Regions from separate parts of the Homo sapiens genome. Here region 2 is linked to region 1. Evidence: fine-mapped expression QTL. A gene starts in region 1. The other region holds a variant in brackets. All regions are shown on one strand. Distances are from middle to middle.

What was found.
Region 2: its variant is fine-mapped to the expression of KRT73 in whole blood (TOPMed, PIP 0.97).

What each region holds. Positions count from the first base shown.
Region 1 is chr12:52,614,511-52,622,750 of GRCh38, reverse strand. It overlaps KRT73 (keratin 73), which reads left to right and starts at 4,192. Exons shown (of 9, transcript NM_175068.3): 1 at 4,192-4,673; 2 at 6,371-6,585; 3 at 7,412-7,472; 4 at 8,077-8,172. The coding sequence starts at 4,227. It overlaps KRT73-AS1 (KRT73 antisense RNA 1), which reads right to left. Exons shown (of 3, transcript NR_126005.1): 3 at 7,446-8,240.
Region 2 is chr12:52,638,586-52,646,680 of GRCh38, reverse strand. It overlaps KRT2 (keratin 2), which reads left to right. Exons shown (of 9, transcript NM_000423.3): 8 at 1,112-1,146; 9 at 1,247-2,123. The coding sequence ends at 1,662. Among named protein-coding and RNA genes, the nearest start is that of KRT2, 9.6 kb to the left of the region's middle. The variant T/C (reference allele first, on the strand shown) is at 4,653.

The sequences.
Region 1 (8,240 bases):
CAGTGATGACTTGTTCATCCTCCACTTCCCTTCGCCCTCGTGTGGAAAGAGGAGCTGGGACTGTGGCAGGCAGCAAGGAGCGGAAGGGAGAGAAATGGGATAGAAGGCCTCATTTCTATATATTTATACACAACCCCAGGGAAGGCACAGAGACTTGTACTTGCACTGTTCATGCTGTCACTGCCTCTGGGCCCTCCCAGCACACGTGTGGTCTCTTCACCACTGCCCTCCAGTTCCGTGTCTCCTTCTTCTGCCCCCAGTTGCTGTCTCAGCTGCTCTCCCAGAGTTGGTTATTTTTAGTTTGGGGCAGTAGGCATATATGGGGAGGAGAGGGGGTTCTTCCCAGACTCACATCCCAGATGTTTATTCCATGTCCTCTTCTCCAATAAAACAAGCAAGTTGGGGATGTTTATAAAAAAATAAAAAATAAATAAAACTTTCATTTAGTTCTTCTGGTTTTTAAATTTCTTTGTTGAAACTGTCTAATTTGTCATCTATTTAGCATGTTCTTAGTTGTTCATTTAAGCATGTTTATTGTGGCTGCTTTGAAATCTTTGTCAGATAATTTTAACAACTTTGTCATCTAAGTATTGGCATCTATCAATCGTCTTTTTTTTTCATTCAATTTGAGGACTTCCTTGTTCTTGGCACAATGAGTGATTTTTTAAATAAACATTTGGACATTTTGGTACTATTATGAGATTCTGGATATTGTTTAAATCTTCTGTTTTGGCTGCCTTCTTCTGACATTGTCCTTGCAGGGGAAAGGGTGTGGATGCTACCTTGTTATTGCCAGGTGAGGGTGGAAGTCTGGGCTCCCCACATGGTCTCCACTGGTACCAAGTGGGTCAGGCACTTGTTACCTCCTGGTGGGGATGGAATCCCGGCTTCTTTCTTGGACTTCCCTGATTCCATCTAACTGCTGGGGGAGGGGGCAGTTGGGGCACCTCATTATAGCCTGGTGAGTGTGAAGGTCTAGGCCTCACACTCAGCTTTTGCTGATGTGGGTGTAGGTGAAACCATAGTATTTTCTGTGTGTTGAGATGGAATAGAGTGATTATTCTCTGTAAGTTTTCCATCTTGCTAGGCTGCCCCTTTCCTGATGATGTGGCTACAGAGATCAAGCTTTTGTTTAATCTTTAAAAATCTGAGCCTTTCCAGATTCCTGCCTTCTTCTGCCCCAAGTCTGGAATATAGGAGACAAATAGAAAACCTAGAGAAATAATCATCATGTCTTTCACTGGGTCCTGAGGTCCCTGTTGGTGTGCCTTCTTCTCTACGCTTCAGAGTCTTCTTATGTTTGTGAAGAAGGGAAAAGTATGTCTACTTCATCTTTCTAGTTGTGGAATATCCACATAGGGAATACTGATTTCACAATATTTATTTGATTGCCCCTGGGGGTGACAGAAAGTTGATTTCCTGCCTGTCTCTCTCTCTCTTTCTCTCTCCCCCCCCCCCCCTTTCTTTCTCTCTTTTCTGAAACCATCAGAAACTCTTGCCCTAGTGTCTGGGCAGAGGCTAATGGCAGGACAGCCCCACTGTGGGAAGTGGGGCTGACTTGGTAATTGGGTTCATCTGGCATTGAGTTTCCCCTGGTGAGGGCAATATAAGGGATGTGAAATATAAGGAGCTCACTGTGTGAAAACCCACTTAGAGGCATTTCAATGACAGGTGCTAGGGATACTGTTCTTAGGGAGAATGATTTCAAAGGGCACCTAAGAGTTTTTTAGCCTAGTCCATGACTGCCTGAGAGTCCTTTGCCACTGGAGTTCTGGGAAGTGAGTAGAGAGGACCAAAGGGAGGATAGGACCTGGATCTTGTCCTCAGGAAAATTTCTGGCCGTTAGGAAAGATTGACATACCTCCTGAACACAGGTAGAGACATCAAATTAGAAGAGACAATTGACATAATAGATGCTGTTGTTTGGACAACAAACAACATGTGGGAGGCTGGGAAGAGAGGTGTGATTGGATTAGGAAAGTGATCAGAGAAGGTTTCCGGAAGTGCCTCTGTGGCAGGTTCACAAGATGAGAAGGCCAGGGAGGGGAGGGGAAGTGAAAACCATAAGGAGAGGGGCTGTTTGCTCGTAAGCACATCCACGCCATACTGCAGAGTTGGCATTCACAGCATAAATGCCATTGGGGGTTATCTCAGGGCCTGTGACATGCAGCAATTTGTAGTTTTGCTGAGATGCAGGCCTGAATCACCTCCACCCCAGTGCTGGTGTGCTGAAATGAGCCAATTAGGGAGTGATTCTGGCTGGAATACTAAGCATTCTCATCACAATGCAGTTTTGTTGGTCTTCTTTGTGCCTTACAAAGAAACTTACAAAGGAATAGAAACTTTGGGTCAGGTGCGGTGGCTCACGCCTGTAATCCCAGCACTTCGAGAGACTGAGGCGGGCAGATCACCTGAGGTTGGGAGACCGAGACCAGCCTGACCAATATGGAGAAACCCCATTTCTACTAGAAATACAAAATTAGCCGGGCGTGGTGTTGCATCCCAGCTACTCAGGAGGCTGAGGCAGGAGAATCCCTTGAACCCAGGAAGTGGAGGTTGCGATGAGCCGAGATCATGCTATTGCACTCCAGCCTGGGCAAGAAGAGTGAAACGCCATCTCAAAAAAAAAAAAAAAAAAAAAGAAAAAAAGGAATAGAACTTCATGTTAGCTAAAAAAGATTAAAGGACTTCCAAGTGGCATTGCCTTTAGTGAAATTGAAGACATCAAAGAAAATGATTATTCTTAACTAGAAAACAACCATATTGTATAAAACAGAGGGGAGGTTGAATTTGGCAATTGCTTAGTACAACAATTTTAGAGGCATATCATAACCTCTATACAGAAATAGAAAAGAAGGATGGGCCAACTGTTCATTCAAGTACTCCAGCTAGTGAAATACTTGTGTTTTTATGGAGGAAATTCTATACTATGGATATATTTGGGATTTGGGATTTGGGAAACTCTTGGGTCACATACTTTGGCAATGTCAAGGATCCATGAAATTCAAATGTCTTCCCCTACCTCCCCATCTCCAAAATTGTGAGCTAGGTTTGGTCTTCATAATTCGGGACCCAAGAGCCTAGCACAGTACCTGGGAGAGAGTCAGCCCTCAAGAGAAGTCTGTTAAACGAATGGATAAATGAATGAACAAGTAGATGGCTGGCTGGCTGGTTGGACGGATAGATGGACGAATGAATAAGGCGGGCATAGCTCTGAATGTGGAGTCAGAAGACCAGCCAAGGGAGTCCTCAAGGCTGGGGCCTGTGCTTTTTGGGGGCATTTTCATTCTCTGGGATTCACACAAAGAAAGGACTCACTAAATGTTTGCTAAAGGAATGACATCCTCAATTATCTGAACCTTGGTTTCCCCATTTGTGTAATGTGGATCATCACCATTCCCCTCCATGCAGACTAAGTGGATTAAATGAGCTTCTTGTGTGAGGAGCTCTGTTACACTGTAAAGTGCTGCACCAGTGTCAGCCATCGTGAATGGTGCAATGACCATAATTTCAAGGTCAAGAGTCAGGGTAGTGGGATGGTAAAGGGAAAAAGAAGTCAGTGTGTGCAAAGGAAGGTGAGCAGGGCAGCCCGGCTGGCACAGAGGAGCAGGAGAGCTGCCTGGGAGGGCACAGCAGGGGGCTGGCAGCCAGAGGCTGGTCCTGGATTCCCAGTGTGCTCCTCTCCTATGGCCCTGGCCAGCCATCAAACCTGTCTCCAGGAACTCTGGGAAGCCAGGCAGCAGCAGCCTCTTCTTAACCACATAAAAGCAGCTCAGCCAGGGTCCCTGAAGCAGCCCATCTGATGCTGGCATGGTTGTGAGATTTCTAACAGATGACACTGTCAATTAAAGGTCTCCCCTCTGTACCCCTACAATCCCAGGCCCCACCACTCCCTGGGGAACAGCAATTGAGACTGCGACAAACCTCCCACCTAAGATCTTTCTATGGATAATGTGCCCATGCTAATTACACATGTTCATTAGATAAAACTCAAATTACATGAGCAAGACTTGCAAGACTAGCACTTTGGGAGTTTTCAAGTCATTTACCTGGTGTCTGATTTTGCTGGGAGAAAATGATTTCTTGCTTCCAGGCAAACTGAACCCACAAATTAGGCCCATGGCTCCCTCTTGAGTCCTATAAAGTGGGAGCCCAGGATCACAGGCTGGTGAACTGCATCTCAGCTAAGGGTCAGCATCTTATCCCCACTTTCTGGCCTCCCCACCATGAGCCGCCAATTCACCTACAAGTCGGGAGCTGCTGCCAAGGGGGGCTTCAGCGGCTGCTCCGCTGTGCTCTCAGGGGGCAGCTCATCCTCCTACCGAGCAGGGGGCAAAGGGCTCAGTGGAGGCTTCAGCAGTCGGAGCCTTTACAGCCTGGGGGGTGCCCGGAGCATCTCTTTCAATGTGGCCAGTGGCAGTGGGTGGGCAGGAGGCTATGGATTTGGCCGGGGCCGGGCCAGTGGCTTTGCTGGCAGCATGTTTGGCAGTGTGGCCTTGGGGTCCGTGTGTCCGTCGTTGTGCCCGCCCGGGGGTATCCATCAGGTCACCATCAACAAGAGCCTCCTGGCACCCCTGAACGTGGAGCTGGACCCTGAAATCCAGAAAGTGCGTGCCCAGGAGCGGGAGCAGATCAAGGTGCTGAACAACAAGTTCGCCTCCTTCATTGACAAGGTGGGTCTTTCTGGAGAAAGCTGATCTTGGGCTCCCCTTTTAAGGACTCAGGAGGGAGCCACTGCCCTAATTTGTGGTTCAATTTGCCTGAGAGCAAGAAATCATTTTCTCCCAGCAAAATCAGACACCAGGTAAACAACTTGAAAGCTCCCCAGGTGCTGGGCCCATAAGGCTTGCTCATGCCGTAGAGCCCCTTCCTTCCCCCGCCTTCATTGTCCTTGGGGTGCTCCCTGTCTGAAGCAGACGAAGGCAGGACACCTCCCCAGGATGCAGACATAGCCCAGGGAGGAACTGGACAAAGCCTGGACATCAGAGGCAAGGGACCAGGGTTGGAGGGGTGAGAGGAGCCAGCAGCCTAGCCCAGGAAGGTGTCCAGGAAGCAATGAGAGCGGTCTCTGAGTTGAGAAGTAGCAGAGTGACAGCCTGTGAGACTTAGAAGCTAGGCGAAGGAGATGCCCTTGACAGCCTGGGGCATCTAGACTGCCATGCGACCCAGCTGTTCCTCCTGTGTCCCCTGAAAGCTCAGACTCAGTCCGTAACACACACAGCCTATGAGGCAAGGCAGCTGGAGGTCACGGTGCCCTAGAGCAGTGGTTCTCAAAGGTGGCCCTGGAACCAGCAGCAGCAACGTCACCTGGACGCTTGTTAGAATGCACACTCTCAGGCTCCACCCCAGAGCAACTGAATCAGAGACTCTGCAGCAGGGCCCAGCACCCTGCATTTTAACAAGCTCTCCAGGTGATGCTGATGTACACTCAGGTTTGAGAATCACTGAGGAACAAAGTGGTAGGAAGGTATTGGGAAGCAGAGACTTCCTAAGCTTAGAGGAGCAGGGGAAGCTCACCCGGAGCGACAGTGAGGTAGGGTGGTGAGGCATGAGTAGGAGTTTTCAGATGGAGGTGGGGAAAAGGCAATCTAGGGAGACAGCACGTGCAGCATGGTAGAACTTGTCTGGGGAATGGGAGACCTTCGGTTTACGACATCACTGTATGAGTAAAGAAGGAAGCCAGGAGGGCTGGGCACATTATGAAGAGTGTGATAAGGAATATGGACTTGACCCTGAGGGTGATGTGGAACCACCTGAGGGTTTTAAGCAAGGGAATGATATATTTGTAGGTTGCAACTTGAGAATGCTTGTTCTGCTGCTGGGACAATGCTGTGATTGAGATAGTAGAGATTCAGACATGAAAGCAACTTAGGAGGGCCGGAGACCCCAGATAAGCTGAACATCTGCCTCTGGCTGGGCTGGGAGAGCCCACGCACAAGGAGGGAGAGACTAGGCAGAGCACGGGCCACCAGACCCCGAGCAGAAGGCCTGACAGTGTGAAGGCTAGCACAGGCCAGCTTGTGTCTAAGGGGCTGCCTTGGAGAGGTGGCCTGGACTGAACATGGACATCGGTCCAGGCAGGTTTGGATAAGTGCAGAGGAGACAGGAGATCTAGATCTTGATAGTTTGAGAGGGAAATGAAGACATTGGTGCCCCTCCCAACCTTAAGGGCTGCCTCAGAGTGAGAACTTCAGTCAGATAAAGGACCCTAGGTAAGGAGTGGGGGTGTGAGTGGCATGGGTGGCAGTTTTTAAGGGCTGAGGCTCATTTTTAAAGCTAATGTAGCATAAGAAAACACAGTTCCTGTCCAGGAAGGGAATTCTCACATCCCCTCTCCACATTGCTTAAGTATGTGTGGCATGGGTTCCAGGTGCGGTTCCTGGAGCAGCAGAACCAGGTGCTGGAGACCAAGTGGGAGCTGCTACAGCAGCTGGACCTGAACAACTGCAAGAATAACCTGGAGCCCATCCTTGAGGGCTACATCAGCAACCTGCGGAAGCAGCTGGAGACGCTGTCTGGGGACAGGGTGAGGCTGGACTCGGAGCTGAGGAGCGTGCGCGAAGTGGTGGAGGACTACAAGAAGAGGTGAGCAGGACGCCACTCCAGGCTGGTCTGCCTCCCAGGGTGAGGCTTTCCCAGCAGGCACTGGGATGTTTGCCTCTGGCCTTGGAGGTATTGGGTTCATCTGTCCCAGCAAGATGAGAGCCTTCTATGGGCAACGAGGCAGACTAGACAGTGGACAACCAGCCTCTTGGGCAGCGTCAGGGCTGTCCTGGCAGGTGATCCCCTCCTTGGCATGCTCCTTCCTGCTCCCTGTTCAAGGGAGCCTGTATTGTGTGTGCCGCAGCCTCTTGGCTCCTAAGCTCACCACTGTGCCCCTGAGTTCCAAAGAACCACCCCCCACCCACCCGCTGCTCTCTGCCACAGGGAAGGAGGTGGAGTTCCTGTTGGGCTTCCTCTCTCATTGCCTTTCGGTCCTGGACACGGGCCATGTGCCTTCTTTCTCCCCTGGGAGATAGTTCTGGCTTCCTTGGGACCCCTGCCTAGGGATGGAGGGGAGTTGTTGGTAGGTTGTCAGGCAGCAGGATTGACACAAGAATCATGGCTGAAAGGGGTAGCTGGCATGCTTCTGTGATTCAGATACTGAGTGGGAAGAGGAAGAACCTACTCACTCCCCAGGCATCAGAGGAAATCAGACCTCAAACCACCCAGGCTCAGGAGGAGGTTACTTCATACCCGGCCTCCAACTCTGGCCAAATAGTCCTGGTGTGTTGGGATGGACTTGCAAAGGTATAGAATAATACCTCTTAAAAGGCATATAATATGGGTATCTCTTTTCTCATTTCACTATGAGAACGTATACACACACACACAGACACACACTCTGCTTCCTGTGATGCTTTCCCTGCAGGTATGAAGAAGAAATAAACAAGCGCACAACTGCTGAGAATGAATTTGTGGTGCTTAAGAAGGTGAGGAGGGTGCATGGGTTCCCTTCAGTCCCCCAGCAGTGGGTGCTGGGCTAAGAGAGAGGAGCAGCTGAGGTCTGAGCCCCCCGCAGAAGGGCCTGGAGCCAAAGTGCTGAAGGAGGAGATGAAGGGCTTGCTGCTTGGGACATTTTGGGACACCTGGTGTTGGTTTAGCACACAGTACTTTGTCTGTGGACAGGAACCTAGATGTGGATAGTCAGTCCCAACTCATGTCCCCTCTGGCTGGGGAACAGGACAGGCTTTGGGAGGGGCTGCAGGTTTGCCTTCCAACTCTGCTAGTTTCTGGCAAATCGCCGTGGCTGTCCTTGCCTCCCTCTGTTGGCTGAATGACTGGCTGAGTGGGGTATAGAGTCTCACACCCTTCTCTGAGAAATAGAGGCAGAAGGAGTTCCAGAGGCATGAGAAACTTGCCCCAGGTTTCGCAGTGAGTCTGACAGTGAAGTTGTGGCTGGAAGGCCGGTTCCTGCCCCTTGGATCTGAAGTCCTGGGCAGCTAGCTAGGGCAGGGCCTGCAGGTGTCAGTTCGCTGGAGAGGCCTGTCTGGGCTTGAAGAAAGGTGAGGTCAGGGGTATCTGGATTCTCCATAGGACGTGGACGCAGCTTACACGAGCAAAGTGGAGCTGCAGGCCAAGGTGGATGCCCTGGATGGAGAAATCAAGTTCTTCAAGTGTCTGTACGAGGGGGTAAGGCTCCCCCTGCCCCACCTCTGGCTCTGTCTTCTGGAAGGACAGATATGTGATGAACAGTTTCT
Region 2 (8,095 bases), 24 kb before region 1:
CAGGGCTGGAGGCAAAGACAGGGAAAGCAGAGAATGGGGCAGGCCCTCCTGACAACTGAGAACTGACATTCTCTGTGTTCCCCAAGCAGAAACTCAGGACATAAAGCATGATTGGAGAGTTACACATTTATCAACATGAAATGATGCATAAGGCACATTAAATTAAACTAAGCAGTAAGTTAAACATCCTGGTCTTTTCTGAAAGAGAAAACAAAATCATGGGAAAACAGGTTAGTCCTAGACAGTCTGAAACTTTGGTCTCTAGGTCCATAGGGTGAGTGGCTTCTGTGCCCTCCACCGGGTGACCCAGAATGGGGGAGATGATGTCTCGGAATGTGCTGACTGGTGGGGACGTGCTGACCGGAGCAGGTGCCAGCCCCAGTTCTTTGCAGGTTTCTGGAGTGACAAATGGAACCATTTGCTAACTTTCAAAGAGGCACCCTTTGCTTCCTCTGTAGTCTGAGACCTTTGTCCGTATTATCAGCATCTTGGGTGACTTAATCTGGCTGAAGCAATTGGAAGGGGAAAAGCTACCCCAGGCCATCAGCAAGCCAGCATGACAAACAGGGAGTGGCTTTCTTCAGGAGGTTGCTCTGTCCCTGTCTAGAGGCAATGCCTCCTATGCCCAGCTTGTAAGAGGAAGTGGGAAAGTTTTCAGTTGAAGCTGAAGAGGGTGGGAAGAAGAGAGGAATGGGGAGGCTCTACAGAGTCACAGTTCTTTCTGAACTGAATGTTCACAGGCAGCCTCATTGTATAATTTCTGATGTGGCATGGATTCTGAATAACAGACTCTCCAAGATGGATTTAAATACACAAATGGGTTGCAAAGTAGGAAGTGAATTTGCTTTTCAGTGACCTTGGATCAACCACGCAACTGTTCATTTTTTATCAGAGCAAAAATTGAGAGGGATTGACATGCAAGGTTGTGCATAAATGGAAGGGGGTCTGTCGTCATTGTGTGACCTGGCAGCATAGAAGAAAGTGGGGTGTGTAAGCCCTGGTGGCTGCTTAGAGAGGCTAAACTGCACATTTGCGGGTGGAAGTGGTAAAACAACATGCATACAGAACCTAAGTGTTCCACCACAACTTGTTTTTTCTCTCTCCCTTACAGGATGTCTGGAGACCTCAGCAGCAATGTGACTGTGTGTAAGTAATGGGGTGTGGTCCTGTTCCATGGGGTGTTGTGTCAGGTGGAGGCAGGGAGAGGCAGTCATAATCTCTGTGGTAACACCACCTCTCTCTGCAGCTGTGACAAGCAGCACCATTTCATCAAATGTGGCATCCAAGGCTGCCTTTGGAGGTTCTGGAGGTAGAGGGTCCAGTTCCGGAGGAGGATACAGCTCTGGAAGCAGCAGTTATGGCTCTGGAGGCCGACAGTCTGGCTCCAGAGGCGGTAGTGGAGGAGGAGGTTCTATCTCTGGAGGAGGATATGGCTCTGGCGGTGGTTCTGGAGGAAGATACGGATCTGGTGGTGGCTCTAAGGGAGGGTCCATCTCTGGAGGAGGATATGGCTCTGGAGGTGGAAAACACAGCTCTGGAGGTGGCTCTAGAGGAGGCTCCAGCTCTGGAGGAGGATATGGCTCTGGAGGTGGGGGTTCTAGCTCTGTAAAGGGTAGCTCAGGTGAAGCTTTTGGTTCCAGCGTGACCTTCTCTTTTAGATAAAGATGAGCCCCCACCACCACCGACTCTCCCAACCCAGACTCTCCCACTCCAGAATGTAGAAGCCTGTCTCTGTACCTCTAACTGGCAGCAAGTTAAATTTTTGTCATTTATCTCTGATGGCACTTTGAGGGAAAAGAATGTCCACATACAGTTTTTGAAAGATCTTCTCTCCAAACCAGTTAGTTAGAGCCAGTGACGCCTCTGTGTTCTGGGGCGGAATCTGTGCTGTCTAGGTTTGTGCTTCTAGCCATGCCCATTCCCGCCCCCACCATGCCTCTTTGCATTGCCCATTTTCCAGATGTGTATTCTGTTGAGGACCCAGGCCCATCCAGGGATTTCATCTCTAAGCCTGGCAGTGCTGGGGGGAAATGTGTTTCTGTGTATATAGCTCCTCTTGTCCACTCTGCTTTCGGAAGTGCTGTGGTCTGGGGGTCTTCATAATAAACCTCATTTGCAATTCATATCATGTGCTGTCTGCGTGATGTCAAACCTTGGTGGAAGTGGGCAGCCATGGACAAGGGAGGTTTGGGCATTAAGGAGGGGCTCCTGGGTGAGGAGCGTGCCTCCCTGAGGGAAGCCCAGGCGCCAGCCTCTGGATGAATGGGAGCCTGGGGATGGGTGTGTGGTTCTCAGAAAGTATTTACCAGACTTGAGGGCCATGGCATTGCCGGGAGGTGGACAGGTAGATTTGTGGAAGAGTCTCTTTTCTAGAAAAACCCATTCTTCCTGAGCATTTCCCACAGACTGCCCTCTCCCTTTTCCACAAAGGCTTTGGCCCGGGATCACTTCTCCTCAGGGCAAAACCGCTGAGCCCCTGGCACCATCGTGGTGAGTTTCCAAGCTCCGAGCTTCCAAGGCAGACCTTCCTCAGCCTGATGTAGGTCCTGGCCTCTGTCTCTGCGGGGGCTCTGAGCAAGCCTGGAGGAGGATACCTGGGAAGAGTCTGGAGGACTCTAAAGTGGCCTCCAAAACAGCCACTTCTATTTTCACAGGACACCCCTCCTGTCAGCGGAGTCCCACCACACTCAGCAAACAAGCCCTTCTCTCCTCTCTCACCGCAGCCCCCGGGGCCTGTCGCATGGATGTTGCCATCAGGTTGGCCTTCTCCTGTGGGTGTGAAGATGCCTTCAGCCCCTTCCTCAGGAAGGCCATGTCACCTGAGCAGGGCTTCCAGGGAGTTCAGGAATGGTTGGGCAGGTGGGATTGGGCATGCTTGGGGTTGGTGTTAGACAGGCCAGAGTTGCCCAAATGGGAGTTGGTGGCTCAGGCTAGGTCAGCTTAGCTTTCTGTATGTGGCGTTTGGTTATAGTAGCTGTGGCTTAAAGCCACTCAGAACCACTCCTGGAGGGTCCTTTTTTCTCCCACTCCACCCCAGCTTTAAAACCTTGGAGAGTCCTTAGTTGAGTCTGTGACCGTCTTCCTGTTCCCAGAGGTTGCAGGGACGGCTCTAATAGAGAACAGATGCATTCACTTGCCTCCAGACCAGCCAGGACCCAGGTATGAGGGTGCTGCAGGAACAGCTCTGAAGGCTGCAGGTGGCAAGGTGGCAAGACTCCAGGCTGAGCATTCTAAAGTGATCCGCTGATCAGAGAAGGTCCCTGAGAACCACCCAGGCCTCAGTCGTGGGGAGAGGTCTGTGGGGAGAGGGTGCAGGTTGGGAAGAAGTGGTGTGAGGAGCTGGCTGTTTTCGGGTATGTACATAGTGTAGACATGAACACAACCTTTAACAGGGACTTGGTCCCAGACATTTGAGGCTGGACAGGAGCTTTGGTAATCAGTGTATTTGAACTTTTCACTTAGGTGAGGAAAAAGGTAAGGCCCAGGGTGGACACAGAAACCAGGTCTCCCACTCCCAATTTATTCATTTTTTAAAAGGCTTTGGGAATAGCAATCCATTCTAATAACTTTCTGAGGGGAAAAGAGGTGAGGCAGGTAAGGTGGCAGATTTATTCCCAGGGGAGCCTTAATTCTATTTTTTTTTTTTTTGAGATGGAGTCTCACTCTGTTGCCCAGGCTGGAGTGCAGTGGCATGATCTCAGCTCACTGCAAACTCCGCCTCCCGGCTCAAGTGATTCTCATGCCTCAGCCTCCCGAGTAGCTGGGATTACAGACATGCACCACCATGCCTATCTAATTTTTGTATTTTTGGTAGAGACGGCGTTTTACCATGTTGCCCAGGCTGGTCTCGAATTCCTGACCTCAAGTGATCTGCCTGCCTCAGCCTTCCAAAGTGCTGGGATCACAGGCGTGAGCCACTGCACCCGGCCTTAATTCTTGAGACTTTCAGTGGTCTGAACCTCTAGCTCCTTCTATCGTTTCCAGTTCCCCATCCCTTCCCCACCTGAGACACAGCCCTTCTGGTTTCCAGATCATATATATGCTACTTTCTTGCTGGACTCCAGTAGTAAAATTAGCCTTGTACATTAACTCAGAGGGACCCAGGCCTGAGGCGTGACAGAAATCAAGCTCTAAGCAGGTATTGGAGAGAGGGGCTACCTCTGGAGAGGGACCCTCCTTTCCCTCCGAAGTGTAGAGTAGCCCAGAATCTGGGCCACACCCTCCCACCAGGGCCCTCTGCTGCTCCTCCACCAAATTTGGTAATTGACTTGTCAGGTCCTGGGCTTCAAAAAGGAGACAGGCACAGGCAGAAGGGTTTTACGAGCTCGATTTCCATAGGGAACTGGGTTAAACATTTCCGTTCTGATGATGTTGCAGAATATTTGGGACATCCTCCCTCTTGTGGTTCCCTCCCTTTCTCTGCCTGTGAGTTTTAGTATGAATTCAAATAAACCCTTTTTCTCTTCCTCACCAAATTCTTTCTTTCCTGTCATTTGAAAGGAAATTCCTTTGGACATTTCACCTCCTTCAGGACAGCTCACCTCCTCCAGGAAGCCCACCTAAATGGAACACTCCTGCCTCCTTTTCTTGCTGTGAAGTGGGGAAGGAGTGCCCTGGGAGTGAGGAGACTTCAATGCTGATCCTCATCTTTG[T/C]GGGAACTGTTGCGTGACACTGGGCAAGTCCTTTCTCCTCTCTTGGCTCAATTTCTGCCTCACTTTAAGGACTTTCAGTGGCCAAGATTGTTTCTACAGATCCTTCCAGCTCTGATGAAAAGAACCCTGTCTGTGCTACCGGGTCAGCCAGTGCTTACTCCTAAAGCCTTTCAGCCCAACAGGGGATTTGGGACACTGTCAGGATATCCAGAGAGACCCTTTGTGAATAGGTGTGAGCATGTGAAGCTCAAAGTGGTTTTCATTCTAGTTCAGTAAATGCCTGTTGGACAATGACTGTGGGCAAGGTTGTGCATGTGGCTACGTGGGCGTATCAAGACTTATAAGACAGTGCGTCCTGTCAGGGATTTATGGTCTAGTAGGGGAAGAATGAGAAATTTGCAAACAGCTATTAACATAAGGCAGAATGTAGTAGTGTGCATTAATTTCATTAAGCGGCCCTTACTAAAAATACATATTCTTTGTTCCAGCATCCCCTCCTTCTCCCTGAGTTTCCACTACAGAGGAGTCTAGAAATCTGCATTTTTAACAACCTCCTAGGTGATTCTGATGCTGGTGACACAAGGGCCATGGTTTGGAAAGCACTGATGGACATGCTAAGGGAGCGGGCTCTGGGGTGGGCTCAGTTGCTGGCACCTTGGAATTTAGTAGGCACTAAATGAAAAGTTGATGATCAGATAAAAGAATGTGTGACCCTGGGCAAGTTATTTAACAACTCTGAGCCTTTCTTTACTCATTTGTAAACAGGTAGCAACAACAGCTTCCTCAGAGGATTGCTGGAGGTTTACACACTGAAATCAATGATAAATGTTTATTCTGTAGGACCTGTGCCATCATAAGCATGCAGTACTGTAGGTTACATTATTATTATTATTGTAAGTTACAGGCAGTATTTTGGGACCGGAGAAGACCTCATGGATGAGATAACTTTATATCCAGGCACTGGCAGATAGGTGGGATTAATTAAAGAGTAATAACAATTCTGCACGAACTGTTTCAGAAGATGGAAGAAGAAACACCTTCCATCTTGTTTTATAAGGCCAGCATTAATGGAAGAAACTAAAGAACAAATCCCTCATGGATATATATATATATATATATATATATATATATATATATATTCAAAAATTATCAGCAAGATATGAGCAAATTCAATCTAGAAAGATATAAAAAGGATAATACATCATGACCATGTGTTTAAAAATATTGTTTAAAAATAGTGAGGTATATGTTTAAAATGTATCCCAGAAATAAAAAGCTTGCTCAACATTCAAAGAATTAATGTATTCACCATATTGACATAGAAGAAAAAAACATAAGACTGTATCAATAGATACAAAACATTTGACAAAATTCAACACCCTCCATGGTAAAAACAAACAAACAAACAAAAACAACAACAACAACAACAGATTCTTAAACTAGGAGTAGAAGGGAACTTCGTTAGCCTGATAAAGGGCATCTGTAAAAACCCATGGCTAACATACTTAATGGTGAAAGTCAATGCTTTTCCCACAAGCATTTCTTGGGAACAAGCAAGCGTATTTGCTGTCACTACTCCTATTCAGCATCGTACTGGGATTCCTAAATAGTGCAATAATGCAAGAAAAATAAATAAAATCCTACAGATAGGAAGAAAGAAATAAAACTGATTTATTAATATATGATGTGATTGCATATGTAGAAAATCCAAAGGTATCTTATTAGTCAACATATTTCTGTATTGAGAAAATCTTGATTTATACAGATAGATGGGTGTAAATGGTAATGATATTTGTAACTAATTAGACTTGAAATTTCTGATTACTTTCCATTGAAAGATAGATGGCAGGGGAAGCTGTAGTTCAAAGTGCAGAACGCTGAGTTAATCTAATGCATTGTTGAACTCCAGTAAATTAAAATTTACTACAGATCACATTCGAATGTGCATGCTGTTTATTTTAAAGTCAACTTTAATGAGGATTCACTTATAAATAAGAAAATGCATTGTATTACATTTTAAGCATATACCTCAATATTTTTAAACAAATGTATACATCCTTATAACCTCTATCACAATACTTATATAGAAGATTTCCACTACTCCAATGAGTTACCCTATGCCCCCAGCCAACTTTTGATCTCCTTGTCGATACCACTGACTGGTTTTGCCTATTCTAGGATTTCTTAGGGTTGATGTACCTCCTCTCCAACACTGGGCATTGCCAGTCTTTTTCATTCTACAGGGTGTGCATGTTATCTCTTTGTAGTTTTAATGGCATTTTCCTGATGACTTGTGATGTGCAGTGTCTTTTTTTGGTTCTTATTGGGCGTTTGTACATGTTTTAGGAAAGGTCTGTCCAAATCTTGTGAAAGTTTTTATTGGGCAGTTTGACATACATAGTTGCAGGAGTTCTTTATATACTCTGGATAACAGTCATTTGTCAGGTATATGTATTGTCAATATTTTCACTCAGTGTGTGGATTTTCTTGTCATTTTCTTAATGGCATCTTACAAGCAGCAGAATTTTCTAATATTGATTAATTCTAATTTATCAAATTTTCTTTATAGTTTGGACTTTTGGTGTCTTAAGAAATCTTTGCTTACCTAATGGTCACAAACATTTTCTCCTACAATACAAACTTTTATCCTAGAAGTTTTATAATTCTAGTGTTTACATTGTCTATACCCCATTTTAAGTGGCCATTGGGGTATGGTCTAAGGTAAGGGTCCAAGTTCATTTTATTCCCCCAAGTAAATATCCAGTTGTTTGGGCACCAGTTGTTCAAAAGACTATTGTTTACTTGTTGAACTACCTTGGCAACTTTGTCAAATATCAATGGAGACATATGTGTGGGTCTGTTTTTGGATTCTTTATTCTGTTGATTAATGTATCTGTGAAACACTTCTAACATACAGTATTGATATGGTGGCTTGAATCAGTCTTGAAATAAGCTAGTATAATACCTCTGATTTTCTTATTCTTTTAAAAAATTATATGGGATTGAATTTTTGAATTTGAGTATAAAGTTTAGTATCAGCTTGTAAGTTTCTATCAGGAAATACTGCTGGGTTTTAATTGAAATGATGTTGAATCAATAGGTCAGTTTGGGGAGAATTGGCATTTTAAGTATCTTGAGTCTTTCAGTCTATGAACATAGTACCTCTCTCCATTGCTTTAGGTCTTCTTTAATTTTTCTCATCAGTGTGTCACAGTTTTCAGCGTACAGGTCTTACATATGTTTTGTTAAATTTATCTCTAAGTATTTCATGTTTTCATGCTATTACAAGTGGTATTTAAAAATTTTAATTTGTTATTTGCTCCTTGCTCATATATGGAAGCACAGTTTTAAAAACTGGCCTTGTTTCTTGTGAGCATGCTAAATTCATTTGTCACTTCTACTAGTTATTTTGTAGATTCCTTAGGATTCTGTATGTACATAAT